Regions from separate parts of the Homo sapiens genome. Here region 1 is linked to region 2. Evidence: fine-mapped expression QTL. A gene starts in region 2. The other region holds a variant in brackets. All regions are shown on one strand. Distances are from middle to middle.

What was found. PIP is the estimated chance that this variant, and not a neighbour inherited with it, causes the effect.
Region 1: its variant is fine-mapped to the expression of SEMA4D in tibial nerve (GTEx, PIP above 0.99).

What each region holds. Positions count from the first base shown.
Region 1 is chr9:89,577,626-89,589,746 of GRCh38, forward strand. No RefSeq gene overlaps it. Among named protein-coding and RNA genes, the nearest start is that of GADD45G, 21 kb to the right of the region's middle. The variant G/A (reference allele first, on the strand shown) is at 5,294.
Region 2 is chr9:89,493,286-89,504,089 of GRCh38, forward strand. It overlaps SEMA4D (semaphorin 4D), which reads right to left and starts at 4,828. Exons shown (of 16, transcript NM_001371194.2): 1 at 4,634-4,828. RefSeq lists silencers at 4,148-4,297, 4,728-4,917.

The DNA of each region.
Region 1 (12,121 bases), 85 kb after region 2:
CTAATGTCTAATGATGATAATAAACATCTGTTCATGTGCTTATCTGCCATCCGATATCTTCTTGGTGAACTGTCTGCTCAGATCTTTTGATTATTTTTTTAAATTACCTTGTTTATCTTCTCATTTTGCATTGTAACAGCTCTTATATATTCTAGATAAAAGTCTTTTCTATTATTTGCAAATATTTTCTCACAGTCTATAGCTTGCCTTTTCATTTAACAGTGTCTTTTGAAGAGCATATATTCTTAATTTTGATAAAGTTCAATTTATTAAATTTTTAATATATAGTTCTAGTTTTTTGGGTCCAGTTTAAGAAATCTTTGCCTAACCCCAGGTGACCAAGATTTTCTCTTATGTTTTCTTCTAGAAGTTTCATAGTTTAGCTTTCACATTAAGATCTATGACCCATTTCAAATTAGTCTTCTTCTACAGTGTGATGTAGGGGTTGCATTTCATTGTTTTGTTTTTGCATGGGACAAATTTGCATCCAGTTGTTTCAGTACCAGTTGTTGAAAAAATTATCATTTCTTCATTGAATTGCCTTGGCAACTTTGTCAAAATTTAATTGATTCTACATGAGTGGATCTATTTCTGAACTCACTATTCCATTCCATTGACCTACATGTTTTTTTTCAGTTAGACTAATGCCACAATGTCTTGATAACTGTTGATTTATAATAAATCTTGAAATGAGCAGTTAGTCTAAAAAACCTCATTCTCCTTTTTCAAAATTGTGTTGGCCACAAGCAAACAAAATTGTTTTAGATCCTTTGCATTCCATGTAAATATTATAATTAGCTTCTCAATTTCTGCAAAAAAGAAGAAACCTCCTGAGATTTTACTTGAGATTTCACCAAATCTCTAAATCAGTTTGGGGAGAATTGACATCATAGCAATATTGACTCATGAACATGGTATACCTCTCCATTTATTTAGACCTTCTTTAATTTTCCTCAGGATTGTTTTGTAGTTTGTGCATCTTTTGTTTAATTTATTCCTAAGTATTTCATATTCTTTGATGTCACTGTAAATGTTACAATGTCATGTAAATGTTGCTAATTTCCAATATTTTATTGTGTTTTGAACATTTCCACCTTTCAGTGTACTTCTAGTATATAGAAATCCAACAAATTTTTAAAAATTGAACTTGTATCCTACAATCTTGCCAAATTCACTTGTTAGTTCTAGTGGCTTTTTGTACATTCCTTAGATTTTTCCATGTAGATTATTATATCTGTGAATAAATCCAGTTTTATTTCTTCCTTTCCAATCATATGATTTTATTTTTCTCACAAGGACCTCTGTGGTTGGCAGAATAATGCCCCAGTGATGTCTACATCTGAATCCCCAGATCCTGAGAACATGTTACATGACAGGGCAAAGGGGAATTAAGGTTTCAGATAGACTTGTAGTTGTTAATTAACTGATTTTAAGAGATTATTCTGGAATATCCATGTGGGACCCAATGTAACCATGAAGATCCTTGTAAGTGGGAGGGGTTGGCAGAGAGGACATCAGCCTGATGGATGTGAGAAGGACTCGATCTGCTGTTGCTGGCTTTGAAGGTGGAGGGTTAGTCCATTCTCATTCTGCTAATAAGGACATACCCAAGACTGGGTAATTTATAAAGGAAAGAGATTGAATTGACTCACAGTTCAGCATGGCTGGGGAAGCCTCAGGAAACTTATAATCATGGCGGAAGGGGAAGCAAACACACACAAACCATGGGGAACTATGAATTACTATTGAGGAACAGCACATTCAACATGTCATAGCAATCAAATACAAAATTAGCCCGGCATGTTGGTGCATGCCTATAATCCTAGCTACTCGGGAAGCTGAGGCAGGAGAATCGCTTGAACCTGGGAGGCGGAGGTTGCAGTGAGCCAAGATCACCCTGTTGTCTGCTGTGCCATGGACGCCTTGGCTCAGAATGCAAGTGCCTGGGAGGGGAGATGTTCTAAACTGCTGTTCTGCATTCACAATGAGCAATATTTTGGAAAGAAGGATATTCCTGGGTTAGGATGAACCCAGGCACTGCCTTCAAAACAAATTTTTAAATTTAAACGTTTCACTCTTCCACCTCATTCTGCCAGGGCTGTTGATGGCAGCTGTGTGTGTGCATGTATGTGAGCAGATGTGTGTGGATATGTGTGTGTGCATGGGCACATGTGGACATGTGTGCATGGACATATGTATGCATGGATGTGTGTATGTATAAATGTGCATTGGCAGGTGTGTGTGTGTGACAGTGTGTGTATGTGTATGGGAGGACCTGGGCATAGAGGTGACTGTGTCTATGTGTGTGAGTTTGTCTTTGTAGGCGTTTCCAATCTCTTGGCCCCTGACCTGCTAGCAACTTCCCTCTTGTGTTCCGGTTCACCCTTATCCAGCTTCCACCTGATCAACTGCCATGTACAGATCCTCTACTCCTTCACTAGTTGCCCCTCTTATGGGAAACCCCACCCAAAATCTATCCACGTGACTATCTGCCTCCTGTATGTGAACACGGGCAGAGACTGCTGTTGGGCTAAAGAAGAACCCACAACCACAATGACTGATGCAACGGGAACTTCCGGACCCCCAGCCTCTAGCAGTAGAGCCCAGCAGTGCTGGCCACGTCTGCTTCGGGTCACAGAGGTGACATTTCCTTTTCAGAGAGCAAGCATCAAAGCCCTCGTCTATGGTGCACTGGGCGACTCTGCGTATCCATACCATCCGATCCTCCTGGTGCAGCAGAAGACATGCTTCTGCCCCACTTGGAGGCAACGCCTTCCCCTGTGCCCTGGCTGCCAACAAGGCCTACCTCTTGGGCCTTCCCAAGCCATCCTGCTACCTCCTCTCTTGATGGTGTTTGAGTAGCCATCTGCTGGCTGCTTCCGCCCATCTTGGAGACAAGTTCATGCTCATTACTGTCCTCGACCTCACACCAGAGTCCTGCCTCCCCTGAGTTTGCTGCTGCAGCCTTCTCTTTCACAACCAAACCTCTGGAATGAGCAGTCGTCACTTGCGCTCTCCACTTCCAAAATCAACTGAAGAAGAAGAAGGCTGCCCTCCACAAGGCAGGACCCACGGGAAGTGGAGCCTTGGCCAAGCACCTGACTGTCTCCTGGTCCAGCCTGGTCTTTTTAATCATCGAGGAAGAGACGCCTGGGATGGAGCTTCATTCCTTTTTTTGGTGGGAAGGTGACTTTCTGACTCCCTTGTGAGAGAGGAGGCTTCTATGTTACTGCAGCCACCAGGAAAACACTTTCTTCCTTTGAATTTAGGTGGCAGGATTTCTGAGAATGAAGGTCGCTCTTTGATTCTGTGTTTACGTGCATTGGATATTGGTGCATTGGGTGTTGGCTGGAAGCCTTCCCTGACTCTGCCTAAGCTCCCCCTAGTCATTTGTATTTTTCCTTCTTTGCACTTGTCATGACTGTTGTTCTACGGCTCCTTTTCTCCATGGCGCGTCTCACTCGGGGCTAGGTGTCTGACGGGCCCTACACAGTCAGCCCACCCACCAATGAAGGGCTGTCCAGGCTGCAGTGCTGGAGCTCCCTGCTGAGCTGCTGCACCAGGCCCCAAGGCCCCAGAGGATGCCCAATGTTTGCCAAATAAACATACAAATGTACTTATAAATACAACATCCCATTTCCTTAGAAACAAATTCCTAGGTTGAAGTAGATTATAGCAATTTTAGTAATTTGATCCATCTAGTCCTATAGCATAATCCAAAAAGTGGCCAGACTTTTGGATTTTGCCTTTTAAAAAATGTTTATATGCATTCATAGCTAAATAAAAAAGTTGTAAAACAAAATTGTGTGCTGTTTTGGAGTCAGAAACCATATTTTAATGATCTACTTCTGGAAAAGCTGGAAAATGGTTCATCTTCATCATTTCCCCTGCCTGCAACAAAGAAACACCATTTCTTCTCAATTAATCAATCAGCAGCACTTGCTGATCACATCCTATGTACAAGGCATTGAATTAGACTCTCTGGAGGTACAAAGATGAAGGAGGCACTTCATTTGTGCTTTTGAAATATATGTGCTAGAAAAGGATGATTAAAAGTAAGCACTTGTCCAAAACTCTTGCTTTTTGCCAAGAGGGGGCAACAGATGACATTTACCCTTCCACTTGAAATAACTAAAAAACCAGACAACTATATATGAAATAATAGTTTTCATGATGTTGGACAGGAGACAGGGAAGGACAGTGATCCCTGAGAGAGCCAAGAAACAAATGAGAATAGTCCCGCAGTTTCCCAACGGGCTGCCTGAATAGAGTTTCCAGGCTCCGGCATAAAGGGAGGCTCGTGTTGGAACCTGGCACACTGCTGGGGCTGAGAAAGGGGAGCTGGGCATCGGGGAAGTCCAAGGCAGCTGGTCTTCCCAGGGCAGGGCACCACTGCAGAGAGAGCTGTGCAGAGATAGAAGCCCAGAGATCTTCGGAGGACCCCCTTTAGTATTTAGTAGAGTGTGGATCAATGAATGTGTACGTGGAAGCTACCCAGGGCTGGGGAGAAACCCACACAAAGGATTAGAGGGAGCAGTACTGGGAACTCACACAGGGCTGGGAATAGTGCCTGCTCCCACCAGGCAGGCTGAAAAAAGACAGAATCTATGGGGCACCGGGGATAGTACGCAGAAGGACCTTGCCCCAGTGGTGGGGGATTGTTAGCCCTAGACTTCAATCTGCTCTGGATTCAAATAACAAATCTTAAAACAAGACCTGAAAGCATTGAACTGTTTCTAAGAATCTTAATTGCCTCCTAGAGCAAAGTTAAAAAAGTATTTGTAGGAATACAGAAATAATCTAGTATCCAATGAGGTAAAATGGATTTCTTTTTTTTCAAGATGGAGTCTTGCTTTGTCACCCAGGCTGGAGTGCAGTGGTGTGATCTTGGCTCACTGCAACCTCTGCCTCCCGGGTTCAAGCAATTCTCTGCCTCAGCCTCCTGAGTAGCTGGGATTACAGGTGCCAGCCACCACACCAGGCTAATTTTTGTATTTTTAGTAGAGATGGGGTTTCACCATTTTGGCCAGGCTGGTCTTGAACTCCTGACCTTGTGATCCACCTGCCTCAGCCTCCCAAAGTGCTCGAATTAGAGGCGTGAGCCATTGCGCCCAGCCGGAAATTATTGACATTGAATAGAAAATCACCAGGCCTGTGAAACTTAACCCCAAATGAAGAGAATAATCAATCAACTGAATCTGACCCAAAATTGATGCTGATGTTGGAATCAGCAGATAAGAGCATTAGGATGGTTATTATAATTGTATTTCTTATGTTCAAAAAGCTAGAGGAA[G/A]AAAGAAAAAAGACTAAAATTTGGGTAAGAAACTAAAAAGCATCACTGGACTATGGGACAACTATACATGATTGCCATGTATATGGACATGACTATAGTAGATGGACAGACTATCTAAAGACATCCATGTAGACAGACAGACTATCTAAAGAGATTATGACTGAAAAATATCCAAATTTGATGAAGAGTATAAATCTACCACTCCATAAAGTTCAATAAAACCCAAACACAAGAAAAATGAGGAAAATGAATCAAGGCACATCATAATCTAATCTTAAAAGCAACCAGAGAAGCAGCACAAAGGAACAGATGCAGAACAAGAGCAGATTTCTCACTGGGAAGGACACGAGAGAACATGGTGGAGCTGCCCCTTTAAAGCGCAGAGCAAAACCCAAACCTTCAACCTAGAATTCCATGCCCAGAGAAAACATCCTTCAAAACTGAAGGTGAAATACACACGTTATCAGACATACAAAAGCAAGACAGTTCTGACCAGCAGAATGACACTGCCAAAAATGTTAAAAGAAGTCTTTGAGGCAGAAGGAAAATGACCCCAGATGGGAAACTGGATCTAAGAACTGAAGAGCTAAGGTAACTTTATAGCAACTCTAAGACCTTTTTCCTATGATTTAAATTTCCTTAAAAGTAATTGTATAAACAAAAATGATAGGGCAGTGTAGGATTTATAATGTATGTATGAGTAAAATGTGTGACAAATATAGCATAAAGCCCTGGATGAGAGAAATGGAAGTATACTATCTTATGGCTCTTACAGAATACATGCAGTGGTATAATATCACTTGAAGAAAGACTAACAGTTTGAAGACAGATACTATAAACCCTATGGCAATCACTAAAACAATAACAACAACAACAACACGACAACACAACAACAACAAAGCTGAAAAAGAAGGGAATCCAACTAATTAATCCAGAAGAAGGCAGCAAAAAGTGAAAATGGAAATAAAGAACTTGGGGCAAATAGAAAACAAATAGTACACAATAAATTTAAACCTAATCATAGCAATAACCCCATTAAATGTATGTGGTCTAAACAAGCCAATGAAAAGGCAGATTCTATTTATCATAGTACTAGAAACACTAGCAAGAGCAATCAGGCAAGAGAAAGAAATAAAAGGCATCCAAATAGGAAAAGAAGAAGCCAAACTATCTCTCTTCATGGGTTATATAATTCTACACCTAGAAAACCCTAGACTCCACCAAAAGGCTGCTAAAGCTGATAAATGACTTACGCAAAGTTTCAGGACACAAAATTAATGTACAAAAATCAATAGCATTACTATAAACCAGTAACATTCAAGCTGAGAGCAAAATCAAGAATGCAATTCTATCTACAATAGGCACACAAACAAAAAATACTCAAGAATATATCTAACCAAGGAGGTGAAAGATCTCTACAAGGAGAACTACAAAACATTGCAGAAAGAAACAACAGATGACAAAAACAAATGGAAAAACATTCCATGCTCATGCTCGTGGATTGGAAGAATCAATATCATTTAAATGGCTACACTGCCCAAAGCAATCTACAGATTCAATGCTATTCCTATCAAACCAACATCATTTTTCATAGAACTAGAAAAAACTCTTCTAAAATTCACAAGGAATCAAAAAAGAGCCCGAATACCTACAGCAATCCAAAGCAAAAAGAACAAAGCCAGAGGCATCATATTACCCAACTTCAAACTATACTACAAGGCTACAGTAACCAACACAGCATGGTACTGGAAGAATGCAGAGAATGAAACTGGACCCACATATAAAGAAAGAAACTGGACTCCTATATAAAATATGCAGAAGAATAAGACTGGACCCCTATATAAAGTATACAAAGCTAACTTTCACCATATACAAAAATTAAGATTAAAGAGGGATTTAGATTAAGATTAAAGAGGGATTAAAGAGGGATTAAAGATTTAGATGTAAGACCTCAAACTATAAAAATCCTAGAAGAAAACCTGGACAATACCCTTCTCAACCTAGGAAATACTGTCTGACAAAGAATTTATGGCTAAGTCCCCAAAAGCAATTGCAACAAAACCAAAAACTGACAAGAGGGACCTAATCAAACTAAAGAGCTTCTGCACAGCAAAAGAAATTATCTGCCAGTTGTGGTGGCTTATGCCTGTAATCCCAGCACTGTGGGAGGCTGAGGCGGGTGGACAGTGAGGTCAGGAGTTCAAGACCAGCCTGGCCAACATAGTGAAACCCCGTCTCTACTAAAAATCCAAAAAAAAAAAAAAATTAACTAGGCGTGGTGGCAGGTGCCTGTAATCCCAGCTACTCGAGAGGCTGAAGCAGAAGAATTGCTTGAACCTGGGAGGCGGAGGCTGCAGTGAGCCAAGATTGCACCACTGCACTCCAGCTGGGCAACAGTGCAAGACTCCATCTCAAACAAACAAACAAAAAAAAAGAAAAAGAAAAAGAAAAAGAAATTATCAACAGAATAAACAGACAACTATGGAATGGGAGAAAAAATTGCCAAACTATGCATCCAACCAAGGTCTAATATCTATAAGGAACTTAGTTCAACAAGCAAAACCCAAATAACCTTATTTGAAAATGGGCAAAGACATTAACAGACACTTCTCAAAAGAAGACAGATAAGTGGCCCAGCCACATCACTAATCATTAGAGAAATGCAAATCAAAACCACAATCAGATAACATCTCGTACTAGTCAGAATGGCTATTGTTAAAAAGTCAAAAAATCACAGATGCTGTGGAGGCTGCAGAGTAAAGGGCATTCTCATACACGTTGGTAGGAATGTAAAGTAGTTCAGTCACTGTGAAAAGAAGTTTGGAGATTTCTCCTCAAAGAAAACAGAGCTACCGTTTGGCCCAGCAATCCCATTACTGGATATATATCCCAAAGAAAATAAATCATTCTACTAAAAAGACACATGTGTTTGCATGTTCATCTCGGCACTATTCACAATAGCAAAGACATGGAATCAACACAGGTGCTCGTCAATGGTGGACTGGATAAATAAAATGTGGTACGTATATACCATGGAATACTATGCAGCCGTGAAACAGAACAAAATAATGTCCTTTGCAGAAACATGGATGCAGCTGGAGGCCGTTATCCTAAGCAAATTAATACAGAAACAGAAAACCAAAGATTGCATGTTCTCACTTAGAAGTGGAAGCTAAATATTGGGTACCTGTGGACATAAAGATGGGAAAAATAGGCAATGGGGACTATTAGAGGGTGGGACAGGGGCAAGGGTTGAAAAACTAACTATTGGGTACTATGTTCAGTGTCTTGGTGATGGTGTCATTCATACCCCAAACCTCAGCATCATGAAATATACCCAGGTAACAAACTTGTACATGTACCCTTGAATCTAAAATAAAAGAAAAAAAAGAAAAGAAAAGGCAGATTGTCAGATTGGATTAAAAAAAACAAGACACATGTCTATTTTCTGCCTAAAAGAAACATACTTTAAATATATAAACATAAATGTTTTAAATGTAAAAGACAAGGAAAGATATACTGTGTTTACACTAATCAAAACAATGCTGGAGTGGCTCTGTTAACAAAAACATGGCTTTTAGAGCAAGGCATGTGGCCAGGAAAAATTTCACAGTGAAGAAGGGGTCAATCACCAAGGAGACACAACAATCCTAAACATTTTTGTGTATAATAATAGAGCTTCAAAATATAAGAAGCAAAAACCCGAAGAACTTCATGGAGACATAAGCAAATCCACAATTGGATTTGAAGAGTTCAATAACCTCTTTCAAATGATTGATAGGATAATTAGGCAGAAGTTCAGTGAAGATACAGGAGATTTGAACAATACTATCAACCAATTTCCTTTAATTGACAGAACATCCACCCAACGACAGCAGAACACTTTTTTTTTCTTTTTCTTTTTTTCTTTTCTTTTGAGTCAGAGTTTCGCACTGTCGCCGCCCGGGTTGGAGTGCAATGGCGAGATCTATGCTCACCGCAACCTCCGCCTCCTGGGTTCAAGAGATTCTCCTGCCTCAGCTTCCCGAGTAGCTGGGATTACAGGTGCCTACCACCATGCACGGCTAATTTTTTGTATTTTTAGTAGAGACAGGGTTTCACTATGTTGGCCAGGCTGGTCTCGAACTCCTGACCTTGTGATCCAACTGCCTCGGCCTTTCAAAGTGCTGGGATTATAGGCGTGAGCCATCATGCCCGGCAAACACATTCTTTTCAAGTTCATATGGAAAATTTACCAAGACAGACCATAGTTCTGACGATACAACAAGCGTCAATACATTTAAAGGGATTCAAACCATAAAATGTTCTTTAGCCACAATGGGATTAAATTAGAAAACAATAACAAGAGATCTCTGGGAAGTCTCTAAATATTTTGGGTGAGATGCAGCACATTCAGGGTGATATGGCTATAGACAAAATTTCTAAATTTTGGAAATGAACACTTCTATATGCCTCATGGGCTGAAGAAGGAATCAAAAGGGAAATTAGGAATCGTTTTGGACTGAATGAAAAGAAATATCAAAATTTGGAGCATGCTGCTAAAACAGTGCTTACAGAGAAATTGTATCACTGAACACATATATCAGAAAACAAAGGCTCTAAATTGATGATCTCAGCTTTCACATTAAAAAAAGAAAAAATAGGCCGGGCGCAGTGGCTCATGCCTGTAATCCCAGCACTTTGGGAGGCCAAGGCGGGTGGATCACAAGGTCAAGAGATCGAGACCATCCTGGCCAACATAGTGAAACCCCATCTCTACTAAAAATACAAAAATTAGCCAGGCATGGTGGTGGGCACCTGTAGTCCTAGCTACTTGGGAGGGAGAATCGCTTGAACCCGGGAGGCAGAGATTGCAGTGAGCCGAGATCATGCCACTGCACTCCAGCCTGGCGACAGAGCAAGACTGTCTCAAAAAAAAAAAAAAAAAAAAAAAAAAGAGAGAGAGAGAACAAAAAGACCCCAAATATGCAGAAGAAAGGAAAGAGTAAAGATCATAGGATAAATAAATGAAATAGGGAGATGATCATAGGGACAATCAATCGATTTATTTGAGATGGGGTCTTGCTCTGTTTCCCAGGCTGAATTTGAACTCCTGGGCTCAAGCCATCATCCTGCCTCAGCCTCCTCTATATCTGGGACTACAGGTACAAACCATCATGCCCAGCTAGAAGCTGATTCTTTGAAGAGAGAAGTAAAATTGATAAACCTTTAGCCAGATTGACCATGAAAAAAACCTACCAATGATCACATCCAGAAGGACAGAGATGACATCACTACTGATTGTACAGATGTTAAAAGGGCACCAACAAAATATGATGAACAAATTTAGTCCATAAACTTCAAACTTAAAACAATGGACAATTTCCTAAAGGACACAATGACTAAATCTTACTGAAGGGGAAATAGATAACTGAATCACTCCATATTGATGAAAAGTGTGGAATTTGGAGTTAAAAACCTTTCCAGAAAGAAAACTCCAGGCCCAGGTGGCCTCACTGGAAATTCCACCAAATACTTAAAATATTTTTAATTAAACAATATTTATTTTAAATCACAATTCTTATTTGGTTTATTTAATTATTAATTATTATTTTCATTGTCATTTTTAATTTTGAAGTTGCATCGCCCATTGTGACTACCAGGTACTTCTGTCTTCCTTCCACAGTCTCTTCCCTTCCAGAACCCCAGGGGGGCTTCAGCTCTCCACTGCTGCATGACAGACATCCCCACGCCTACAACTGTGATTTGCTCAGGACCTCTGCCAACTCTGGGCTTGGCTGGGCAGCTCCCTCTTAGAATCCCTCCTGCGCAGCCATTACCATGGCCAAGTCATTTCCAGGCTTCTCTACGTTCATGTCTGGTGGTCGAAGCTGGCTTTCACCTGGGACTTGAGCTGAGCCATTGGCCAGAACATGTAGCCTGGGCTTCCTCAGAACATGGCGACTGGATCTTAGGCAAGATCCTGAGAGAGCCAGGATGTCTCCTTTACGACCTGGCCTCAGAGAGCAGGTGGCATCACTCTCACTGCATTCTCAGATGCAAGTCATGCGTTTAAGGGGAGAGGAACTTGGCTCCCTCTTTCATTGGAAACCATGTCAAGAAATTCTGGATGTGTTTTAAAGTGACCATTAAGTCCTTTAGGGTCTCCCAAGGTTGCTGTAACAAAGTATCTCAAACTGGGAATGAAGGGCAATGACCCAGGAGGGGCCCTGTATCTGGGCACCTGCACAGGCCCACCTGGACTGCTGGCCTCAGAACTGTGGTGAGAGAAACAAACCCTGTTGTCTTCAGGTCACTGTGATGTTAGCTCAGCTTGTTCCAGCAGAAAGTCCTTTCCTCTCACTGATGGAGGCACTGATGCACCAGTTTTTGTCATTTCTTTGCTACATATTCAGAAGGGTCCTTCTACCTTTAAGAATTTAAGATTGACTGGGTGCAGTGGCTCACGCCTGTAATCCCAACACTTTGGGAAGTCAGGAGATCGAGACCATCCTGGCCAACATGGTGAAAACCCGTCTCTACTAAAATACAAAAAAATTAGCAGGGTGTGGTGGCATGTGCCTGTAGTCCCAGGTACTTGGGAGGCTGAGGCAGGGGAATCGCTTGAACGCGGGAGGCGGCGGTAGCAGTGAGCCGAGATCGCGCCACTGCACTCCAGCCTGGTGACAGAGCAACACTCTGTGTCAAAAAAAAAAAAAAAGAAAAAAAAAGAATTTAAGATTTTGGAGTATTTGGCAATACTCCAACGTGATTAAGCGTGTGGACTCAGGAGTCAAAGCACCAGTGTTCTTTCCTGACTCATATTTGCTGGGACCTTGGGCAAATTAC
Region 2 (10,804 bases):
TGTGCATCCACCCACTGGGTGGTTCTGTGCAGGCGCAAAGGCAGGCGGCTCCTGGCAGCACAACAATGAACATGTGCCAAGACCCTCAGCCCTCAAAGATGGCCCAGGGCTCAGAGCCCCGCCACAGCCCTGCTGCAGCACTGGGCTGTGCCCTCACAGCACATGGGACACACCGGTCAGGAACAACAACAAACAAAAGCTCCTAAACTCACAGTGAGAACCAAGTGGGTCAATTGCAGGCCTAACGGGAAACTTTCTGTCCTTCCAAACAAAGTCAAAACACACACACAAATCAGAAGGCCTAACAAACACCCACATTCTACATCAAGGCAAATTACGTTCTGGCTGCTCAAGCAACTCTAATTTCTTGCAACAGATCAGGAAAATACAAAAACTGTTACAATTCTAAGCAATTTCTACTTTTTACTTTGTAGACTTCTATGCAGCACGCATCACTTATGTTTTTGCTATAGCTTTAGGTTACTTAACATATCCTTTACTAAATGGAAGAAGAAAACAAAGACACCACAGGAAATGCTGGAACAAGCCCCAGGTCCAGGTCAGCCAACCAGCAATGGGGACCCCTCTGGCGCAGGCTCCAGACCAGACTTGGCCTTTGTTTCTGTACTGAGTGTAAGGATAACCCTTCTGTGGCTGGATTGTACTATTATTTAATTGTCAGGGTCTTTGTCTTGTCTCCCCTAATGCTGATAGTAGCATATTGATTTCTATCCTTCATAGCCCACAAAGCACATATTCAGAGGATCAATAACTATTGATTCATTGATTGCCTCATGGAAGCCAATTCATCTGTTATTAAGACGTGTAGAAACATGAACTTCCACAAATCAAATTCTATTTAAAACGCCAGAGGAAAGTATATGACCTAATGAAGACCACTTTTTGAAAATTCATTTTGATATTCCAAAAATAATTCCTTGTAACAGAAACAAACCATACATAAGTACAAAAAGAAGACAAAGTATAGGTTCCCTCTTCCTCTTCCCTCTCCTCCCCCAACACACACTCACTCACATTCACACACGCCCCACCCTTTGCTAACTGTGGAGTGCTGCTTTCACTCAGGGCTGAGTCCCTAGAGCCTGGGGCAGCGCCTGGCACCAGGTCCACATAGGCGGCTCCATAATGATCTGCTGAATACCAGGTGTGTGTCCTTCCAGATGGGCTTCCGTGCTGAGCGCCTGCACTTGTGCATGGAGAGGGCACATTCTCTATAGTCTACACTAAGGAGTGACATTTCTACTTAATAGATTGGCATATCTTTTAAAGTAAACCTTTGAATGATGCCATCATGAAGTAAAGAATCCAATGGCATGTTTTACAGGGAGGAATTGGAGATCTCCGATTATTATTAACTTTTCATGATGGAGAATTTTCAAAGTGCATGCAAGTAGGCAGAACAGAACAAAGAACCCAGGTACTCTCATCCAGACCCCAAACTGTCCACTCAGACCATCTCGCCCCTTCTCATCCCCTCTGCTTCCCCACCCCACACTAATCTGAGGCAGATCCCAAACATCATTTCATCTACCAACACTCAGTATCTATTGCTAAAGGGTGAAAGTTATTCTAACATAACCACGATGCTGTGATTAAGGAATTCCTTAAAATCATCATTCACTCCACAAATGTCCATGAGACACATCAATAGCCTAGTTTTCAAAGGAGTGATGCTTGGATCAAATGCTGATCCAAGTGACAGCCTGGATCAGGCTTTGATCGAAGCCAGAAATCTTGGGGTGCCACTTAGATGTGATCCAGGGCAGGGATGCAGTCATTGCTTTCATGGGCAGCATCTGAAACTTCTGGACCAAATAACAGGACCCTGCCTGCCCCCCACTGAGGTTTGCACAGGTGCTGTGGGAAGGCGGCTGCTGATGCCCCAGGGGAAGCAGCAAGGCAGTAGAAAGCTGGGGCCCCTGCTGTGACACCCCCAGCTAAAGGCAAATTCGCTCAGGGAGGGTCACAGAAGCTGAAAAGTGACCCACAAGCAGCAAAGCAATTTGCTTATCCCAAGGATCGCCTTAACTAGTGCACCTAAAACACCACCCAGCTTCCAGGGAAGGCCCTGGCACACCCTCTCCACCTGACTGAATCAGCAGCTATCTCCTCCAGCAGCCCTGGACCCTGGACGGCAATGGTGATGGGGATGGGGATGCAATGGGCAGGGCTGAGGAACTGCACCTGCCAAGCCCAGGGCGGACCCTGGCCCAGGGAAGAGAGGACCCACCCCAGCTGCCTCTGCCACCTCCCTTCTCACCTTCTAGTCTTCTTCCTGGAATTGTCCAAGTTCAAAGAAGAAATAACTGCCCTGGTTGGGAACAGCAGGCAGCAGCCTTTCTCTCAGCAACTAGGCTCGACAATCAGCCGACGGCACGTTTATTTCTATATTTTCACGTGGCAAGTTTCATCCCCATGGGTCCTAGCTCCAACCCTGGAGCTCTGGCTCCAGGGGTCAGGAGGAGAATCTGCAACCACCCTCCTGGACCCGCCCATCCCTCCCTCCCCAACAGAAATGGAACCAAGAGAGGCAGAAGCCTGAACAGCCTCAATGCAGAAGCACAGAAGATAGAGAAAACCATTGATCTTTGCAATGCATTATTGATTTTGCTGTTGTGCTGTCAGCAGCGGACGTTCCCTCCCTCCTCAGTCAAAGCTGGCCATTAGCGTGCACTCCCAAGCTTTGGCCTAGACACACCCGCTTGGTGTGGGGAAAGCGGCTCTAGGTAACATCTGCCTCCAGCGGTCCACATGGAGAGGACTGTCCACAAGTGGATGATGTCACCAAGGACATCTCCCTGGCCCCAGACCCACTGGATATCAAATGCAACATGGTCGCTGGTCTTGCACTCTAAACCTCAGCCCAGGACCCCAGGCACTCAGGGGGGTCTGTGCAAGGCTGCATTTTCAACAGACTCTGGGTGTGCTTCTCAGGAGGTGGGCCCCCTCCCATGGAGTCCCTCCCTTGTGCTGTGCTGCAAGACCTTGGGCTGGCATGGCAGCTGGGGCTCTGCATCCCCACGGTGGCCTTTTGCCTGTCTGCACTCTGAAATACAGCCACTGAGTTCCACCGTCTACCAACTCCTAAGCGGCCCACCCTCCTGGGACCCCAGGGCTGCTCCTGGCACCAGTGATGTGTTTCTATTTCTTTGTTTGACTCGCTGAGTGTACCACGTACACTCTTCTCAGTCTGAAGGTCTGGCCTTATGGGAGGGCAGTCTTTGCTCACAGAAACAGGCCAGTGCATCCCTCATCTTCCCACCCCAGCCTCCCTGGTGGGTATGCTGAGCCCGCCTGCTTTCTTCTTCTGGCTGACGACTACCAAGACATGATATACGCAGACACCAACTGTCAAAATGACAATCAGGGCATTATCATCTCTACCAGAATCCTGCCCCTGCACTGGCCAGAGCTGCCTGTTTCTGGGACACAGTAAACATTCCCAAATAACCTCGCCTGGGCAGCCAGCAGGCAGGCCCCAGGCCTAGGACACATATGAGGTGACAGGCCACTGGTGTCACGTCACCCCCAGGAAAGGAAACTTCCGTTCCGTGGCGCCTGGTGGATTTGAAAAGACTCAGAACAGCAGGGTGAGATGCTTGGCCCCAGGCCCCACGTCCAGCTTGGCCTTCGGGGGCCTGGCCACCCACGAGCCTGGGATGTGCTCAACACAGAGTGAGGTTTTCAAAACAAAAGCAAAGCAACTTCATGTGGAAAACCTTCCGGAAAGCAGGACCCAGCCCTCGACACCAGGCCTCATTTGACGCAAACTGCCCACTTACAGACTCCCATTCACCCACTCTCCCACCTACCCCCCAAAATACTAAGCCAGAAAATAGAGGACAACCACGAGTTCAACTCTCCTTTACACGTTTTTACTGGCATAACCCCAGTAGAGCCAGCCCCTTGCAGCTCACTAGGCGGCTGCAACAGGTGCAGCCCAAGCTAAGGCTTGTGGTTCTCCTGGGCTGTTCTAGAATAATGCAACCAAAACCCGAAAGGAAACCGAGGCCTGCAGCACTCACTGCCAAGGCGGCGACCTGACCACTGCGGCCCAACCTGCCCCACCTGTCTGAGTGCGCGGCGCCGGGTCCAGTGCACAGGGTCCGCGGCCTCCGCGACCAAAATAGAAGCCCGCGGGGGCCCGGCCAGAGCCCGGCTGGCCGGAGTGGGGCCTGACCTGGCGGGGCCGGACTGGGCGGGCCGGGGCGCGACGGGGCCTGGCCGAGCGCACCGCCCCCTCCCTGGCCCGGGTATGCAGCGCGCCCCCGCTCCCCCGCGCCCAGAGGAGCCACCTGCGCGCAGGGACTGGGGAGGCAACCGGGAAGGGGAGAAGGCCGGGGAGGGATAGCAGAGAGGTCCAGGGGGTCGGAGGGGTCCGGGTAGGTGTCTCTGGGAGGCGTCCCAGGAGGGGCCCCGGGGGGATCCAGGAAGGAGTCCAGGGGTCCGGGGATCCCAGAAGGAGGCTCCTGCAGGGGTTCGGGGAGGGCCCCGAGGGTCCGGTGAGGAGCCTAGGGGTGTGGAGTGGGGGCTCCGCGGAGGGTCCAGGCCGCCCCCAGCGCACCTGCCCGGCCCCGCGCGCCCTCCCTCCCGCGCCAGCCCGGCCGCTTACCTGCAGCGCGCGTCCTGCCCGCGGCGGCTCCCGGCCGGGCGAGTTCGGGCGCCAGGAATGGCGGCGGCGGCGGCGGCGGCAGCGGCGGGAGGCGGCCGGGCCGGGGAGGGGGTGGCGGGGAGGCCCGGCGGCGGCAGCGGCGGCTGGGATGCTGCGGCGCGCGAGAGCGCTGAGGCCGGCGCGGGGACGGAGTGCGCGGGGCGGGCGCGCAGGCCCCTCCTCCGCTCCCCCTCCCTTCCCGCCTCCTCCCCTTTCCCTTCCCCTTCCTCTCCCCCTTCTTCTCTTCCCTCCTATGGCCCCGCCCCTTTCTTCCTCCTTCCTCCTCCCTCCTCCTCGCCCCTGCTCACCTCCCTCCTTTCCCTCCCCCAACCTTTCTTTTCCTCCCTTCTCTTTTTCCTCCTCTTTCTTCACCTTCGCAACACTCTTCCACCTCTCTCCCCTTCTCCCCACTTTTGCTCCCCACTCCTTCCTCCTCACCTCCCATCTCTCTTGCCTCCCCGCCAGGCCCAGAGGGTTGTCCCTCAGCCCTGGGTTGGTCTCTGCTGAGTCAAGCACCCGTTCCCAGGACCAAGAGGTGCCCTGTCACCCTCTTCCTCACCAGCTCTCAATAGACAAGCTTGCCCCTTCTGGGGTCCTGGATGAACCCCACCCTTTCCAGGCCTCCCCCAAATCCCCCAGTTTTTTTTCACCCCCAGACCCTGGGCCAGCTCTTCTGAGAACCTGACCTGCAGTGTGCGTGAGGCACGTGGCACCCAGAACACTTGGCTGCTGACTTTGGGCAAGAATATTTCACACCAGGCTGCTCCCATTCCCCAGGGGAGGGGCTGGCACCACCTGGAGTCTTGGTTTCCCTGAACCCCCGTGCTAGCCTTTTGCCAAACGTTCATCATTTTCCACTCTGTATGGCAAATGGTCCTCCTGTGAGGCTGCTGGTGAGACTTGTTTGTGACTAGCCCATGGGTTTGGGGATCTGGGGGCCCTCAGAGATGGTGCTGCTCCATCCAGACCTCTTCCCTCTGCCCCCAGGAGAGGTGACAGGGCTCGCACAGTGACTGGCCAGGCTGGGAGGCCTATTGAGGAACACAGTCCTGAGAAGGGGACACAGTTTCTTACGGAACCAGCTAAGATTTCCCCTAAATGTGAGGAGTTGGGGAGCCCCTCTCCAGGCCAGGTGATACCTCCCTGGACTACAGACTGCTGTTGAGGGGCAGGGGCCCTGAGGCTGTTTTCCTGCTGAGCACTGGCTCTGAGAGCCAGAGTTTACAAATGAAGCCAGTCCCAGGCCCAACAGTCACAGAGTTAAAGGCCCAACAGTCTCAGAGTTCCGTTCTAGGGCCTCCTGTGGTTTCTGTGGTTCAGTGCCGGAGCTCTGAGAATAGGGCTTCGGCCCAGCAAAGGCTAAGATGGCAAAGCTGGTGTCAAGCAGGGTGGGGTGGAGCACGCACCCCCTCCTCCCTCTACGGCATGGCAGCCACCACCCTCTTGCTGAAGAATCCAGACCTGGAATCTGATAGACTCCCTTGACTCACAGCTCTGCAGTTTCCAAATAACCTCAGGCCTCAGCAAACCTCTGTACCCTGCAACATGAGGACAGTGTGGTCGTCCTGGAGGGTTTGGGGAGCACGGAGAGAGAATGGCAGGTAAAGCCCACTGCACCGTGTGCTCGGGTTCAGTGCTGGTGACTATTACAGGAAAAACTAGAGAAGTCTTTTCCAAGCTCTTTTCCAATTGTAGGGGTCCATGAATCCATGTTCCACATCCCATTTGGATTGAAACATAATGGGAACGGATTAGGACAGAACTGGTTTAACAGCATTCTATACCCAAGGAGGGATGCACGCTTAGGATCTACACATGCAAGCATTGCACTGATTGGGGTGGGGTGGGGGGACTCTCTTTTATTCCTCACTAGTCAGACACATCTAGAATACCATGCCCTTGCTTGGTGTCTAAGGCAGCCAGCAGTATCCCGTGGGAGGGGAGTTGACCCACCGGGAGTCTTCAGCCTAGAAAATCAATGTGTGGAGCACAAGACAGAAGAACCCCAATATGTGCAAAACTGTCCCGGGAAGAAGGATTACTCTGTGGTGTTATGAAGGGCAGAATGAGGACAGATGGGTGGAAATTAGATGAGAAAGTGGATTCCTGCCTATCGTGGGCGCTTTCTGACAGACCTCACTGTGGAAGAGCCGGCTGCCCCTACAGGAGCGTGCCCTTCACAGCCAGCGTCTAGACAGGCCTGGGGCCACCTTGGGAACACACTGCAGGGAGGGGACCAGCAGCAGAGGGGTATGCTTCTCAACAACTGCTGAATTCTCTCCTGGCTTTTAGACCCACATGCTCAGAATCTAATAGAGGGCAGCCCAGGGCAAAGAAGAGACTTTGCATGGCTGTCCTGGGGCCCACACTTCTGGCATCATGACCTTCCAGAATACTGTCCTCTCTAGCCTGTTTCCTAATGCATACAGAAGAACATGAGAGAATTCAGTAAAAACTCCAAAAAGCTTTCCGCAATGCCCAGGCTGCGAACACAAGGGCTTCTTTGCACCGTGCTTATATAAAATTGCCCCCAAACATGTTTATTGCATTCATGAAGGAGACAGGACTCTTAGTTGTAAGTGATAGAACTTCAGCCCATACTATTGGCTCACTTGCATCCAAAGATGCCCCAAGTACCATTAGAACCGGGACTTGGATGCCATTATTAGGTCTTCCTCTTCCCTCCTCTCTGACCTTCTTCCCTGTTCCCTTCTCTCAGCATGATTGCCTATGTCTCCCAAAGTGACCAAGCTTGCCTTTTTATTCTTGTTTCACACTCTGTCGTGGGACATTTCAAACATAGATATAAAAGTAGCAGGCTGGGTGCAGTGGCTCACGCCTGTAATCCCAACACTTTGGGAGGCTGAGGCAGGCGGATCACCTGAGGTCAGGAGTTCGAGACCAGCCTTGCCAACATGGTGAAACCCCGTCTCTACTAAAAATACAAAAATTAGGTGGGCATGGTGGCACAAACCTGTAATCCCAGCTACTCAGGAGGCTGAGGCAGGAGAATCACTTGAACCCGGGAGGCGGAGGTTGCAGTGAGCCAAGATCATATACCACTGCACTCCAGCTTGGGCGACAGAGCAAAACTCAGTCTCAAAAAATAAAAATAAAAGTAGCTAAATGAACTCCAATCTTGCCTTACCTCTCACCCCCTTACTTTCCCCTCCAATATTAAGTTCAAGCATATCAAAGATCATATTAACCAATCTATTTCCTAGTTTCCCCAGAAATGCCAAGTGTTTGGATACTGAGACCATGCTTTGCAAAGTTTCTCTGCATTTCCCAGCCAGAATGTTGACACCATCTATATGCATATGAGCATAGTAACTGGATTGATAATAGTTAAGTCCCATATGAGAAAAAAACTCAAGTATGGCAGCACAAATAATACTCAGCTTCCAACACGGCCCAGGTGGATATGAGGAGAGAGGATCCTCTGCTTCCACTTTGCAGTGCAGGAGGGAACAGGCACGTAGTGGGCTGGGAGCCGTTTCCAGATCGCCCAGTGTGGAGCCTTACGCAGTGGAGGAGGTGTCTTCAGAAAGAGTCGGCCTGCCGCCTCTCACCTGTAGTGGCATGCAGAGTGTCCAGGCTAAGCTTAGAGAGAGAGTCAGCACAGCAAGTGGAGAAACGGGGTCCTCTGAGGGACTGTGGGAAGGTTGGCTCTGGGACCTGCCAGCAGCTTCTAGAAAAGTCCGGGGAGATGTCCTTTGAATGTGACCACACTCTGCAGAGACGTGGGTGAGCCACACCTCCACTGTTACCATGCAGTGGCTGCCAAGACCATGCTGTGACTCCTACTCCTAGCTCTGTTCCTCCCCGCACCCCAGAAAAGGCTGGTAAGAGTGTGGCCTTCCTGGCCAGCCTCTCCAAAATAGAGAGTCCACACCGGTCTCTGTCAGGCACCCTGATTGTTAGAACATGTCAATGAAGGAAGCCGAAAGGGATTTTGAAGGCTCTGAGATCCCCAGGCACCTCTAGCACCCTCATATGTCCTTACTGCCACTGAGACCCCCACAGGACCCACAGAGCTCTTTTTGTTAAAGCCACACTTGGAAACGTGGGGTCACACCAGCAGAAGCATAGAAATGAAGGCCGTGCTGAGATGTTATCATTGCTCTGTGCTCCTGCACAGCGTTCAACTGTCAAACCACTAAGTGCTAGATAAATCTGGTGAAGGGGTGTAATCCATTTTTGGTGCACACACTCATGGCAGCACTTCCCACATCACTGAACATGCAGAATGGTTTACCAAGCCATCCTTCGTCATACTGGGGAGTGTACAGGATGCTGATGTGGCCCCATCTGACCATTGATCTAATCAGTGCTGGTGTCTGCTGGATTAGACTTGCCCCAGCAAGTGAACTTGCCCCAGCAATGCCTTTCTGACCTTTAAGGTGACTGCTGTCACCAACTGCCAGACCATGGACCTCTTCGCATCCCTGGCTGGCTGGCAGACACCCACTTATGTGTCAAGGCTCTGCCCTGGCATCATTTCCTCCAACACAAACCCATGCACCCTGGGCAGAGCTAATATCCCCCACCCTGCTCCTCAGCTCGAATGTCACCTTACACGTCACTTCCTTGGTGCCTGCACCAGCTTCCATTATAATTGTTTGTTGATAGTTTTCTTTCTTCTCTGGTCTACATTTTGAACTTCACAGAGTGGTGAGGTCTACAGAACTCTTTTCAGAGTAATGTGTTTAAATGCATAAAGTCAAATACAGGATTCAAAAGGAAATGAATTATACTGAAATCCAGCTACCAAAATACTTTAAAATGTGATCTACTTGCTTCTTTTTTAATAATATGCTCTGGCGGCAGATCTGATAGCTGTAGTTTCCAAGTCATGATAAGTCAGCCGATATTTTAAAGTCTGTAACGAGCATGATGTGATGTGAGAATCGCTGTGATTTCTGCTGAGAAGTCCTTACATACTGCTGATGTGGCTGTGTTTGTTGCCTGCATGTACACCCGAAGGAAATGCTTCCTTTCAGTTAGAGGTTAGTGGGGAAAAAAATGTAATTCTTTTCTTATCATCCTTCCATCTGGATGGACCCTTCAAAGTTGATCAGACTAAGAATTACTATTTTAAAGGAAAGGGACCTTGTATCTCCAGCATCTTGCATAGTGCTTTATAAAGTTGCCATCAAACATGTTTATAGCATTAATGAAGGAGACAGGACTCTTGGTGGTAAATGACAGAAATTCAGCTCATACTATTGGCTCACTTGCGTCTAAAGGTGCTCCAGGTACAGTTAGATCCAGGGACTTGGATGCCATTATTAAATATCCCTCTTCTCTCGGCTCTCTGACTCTTTCCCTCTTTCTCTCTGATTGGCCCTAGCTCTGTTTGGGTGTTGGTTTTATCCTCTCCTGTCACAAGGCTCCTGGCCACCAAACTCTAAAATGATGACAAAGACTCTTTCTCTTTATATTGCAAATCTCATGGAAGAACTTTGATTGGCTCTGTTGGCTCTCATGCCAATCCCATTTACCCAAAATTCCAGAGAAGGATGAGAAACCACAACCGGTCAGACCTGGGCCACATGCATATGCTTGCAGCAGGTACAGTTCACAATCTCACAGAACTGCAGGGCTGTGGGAGAGCAGTTCCCTAATGCACAGATGAGTGCTAAGCAAATAGAAACAACATGTGCCCAGGTGTGTTCAAGTCAGAGGGCAAATGAGCAATCACAGAGTGTTTATTTGGATGCACGATTCCCTGCTATGATAAAAATCCAGTGGTTTGACTGAGACAGAAGTTTATTCATTTCTTATATAACATTATCAGAGGTAGACATGTGGACCAGGACTGGTGGGGAGCTTTGCTGTCTCCCATTTGGATGTTACCGTCCATCTAGCTGGAAAGAGGAAGAGTATGATCAATAGATTTCATAGGCCAGGACGAGTGTGATCAATAGATTTCAGTGCAATACCAGGAAGTAGCACACATCACTTCTGTCACATACCATTGACCAGAACTTAGTCCTGGGCCCACATGTAGCTGCAAGGGGGAGTTGGAAATGTAGCTGCTAGTTGAGTGACTATGTAACCAGCTAAAAGTCTGTAATTAATATATTAAGGAAAGGAAAAACAGATATTCATGGACAACTAGGTGAGTGC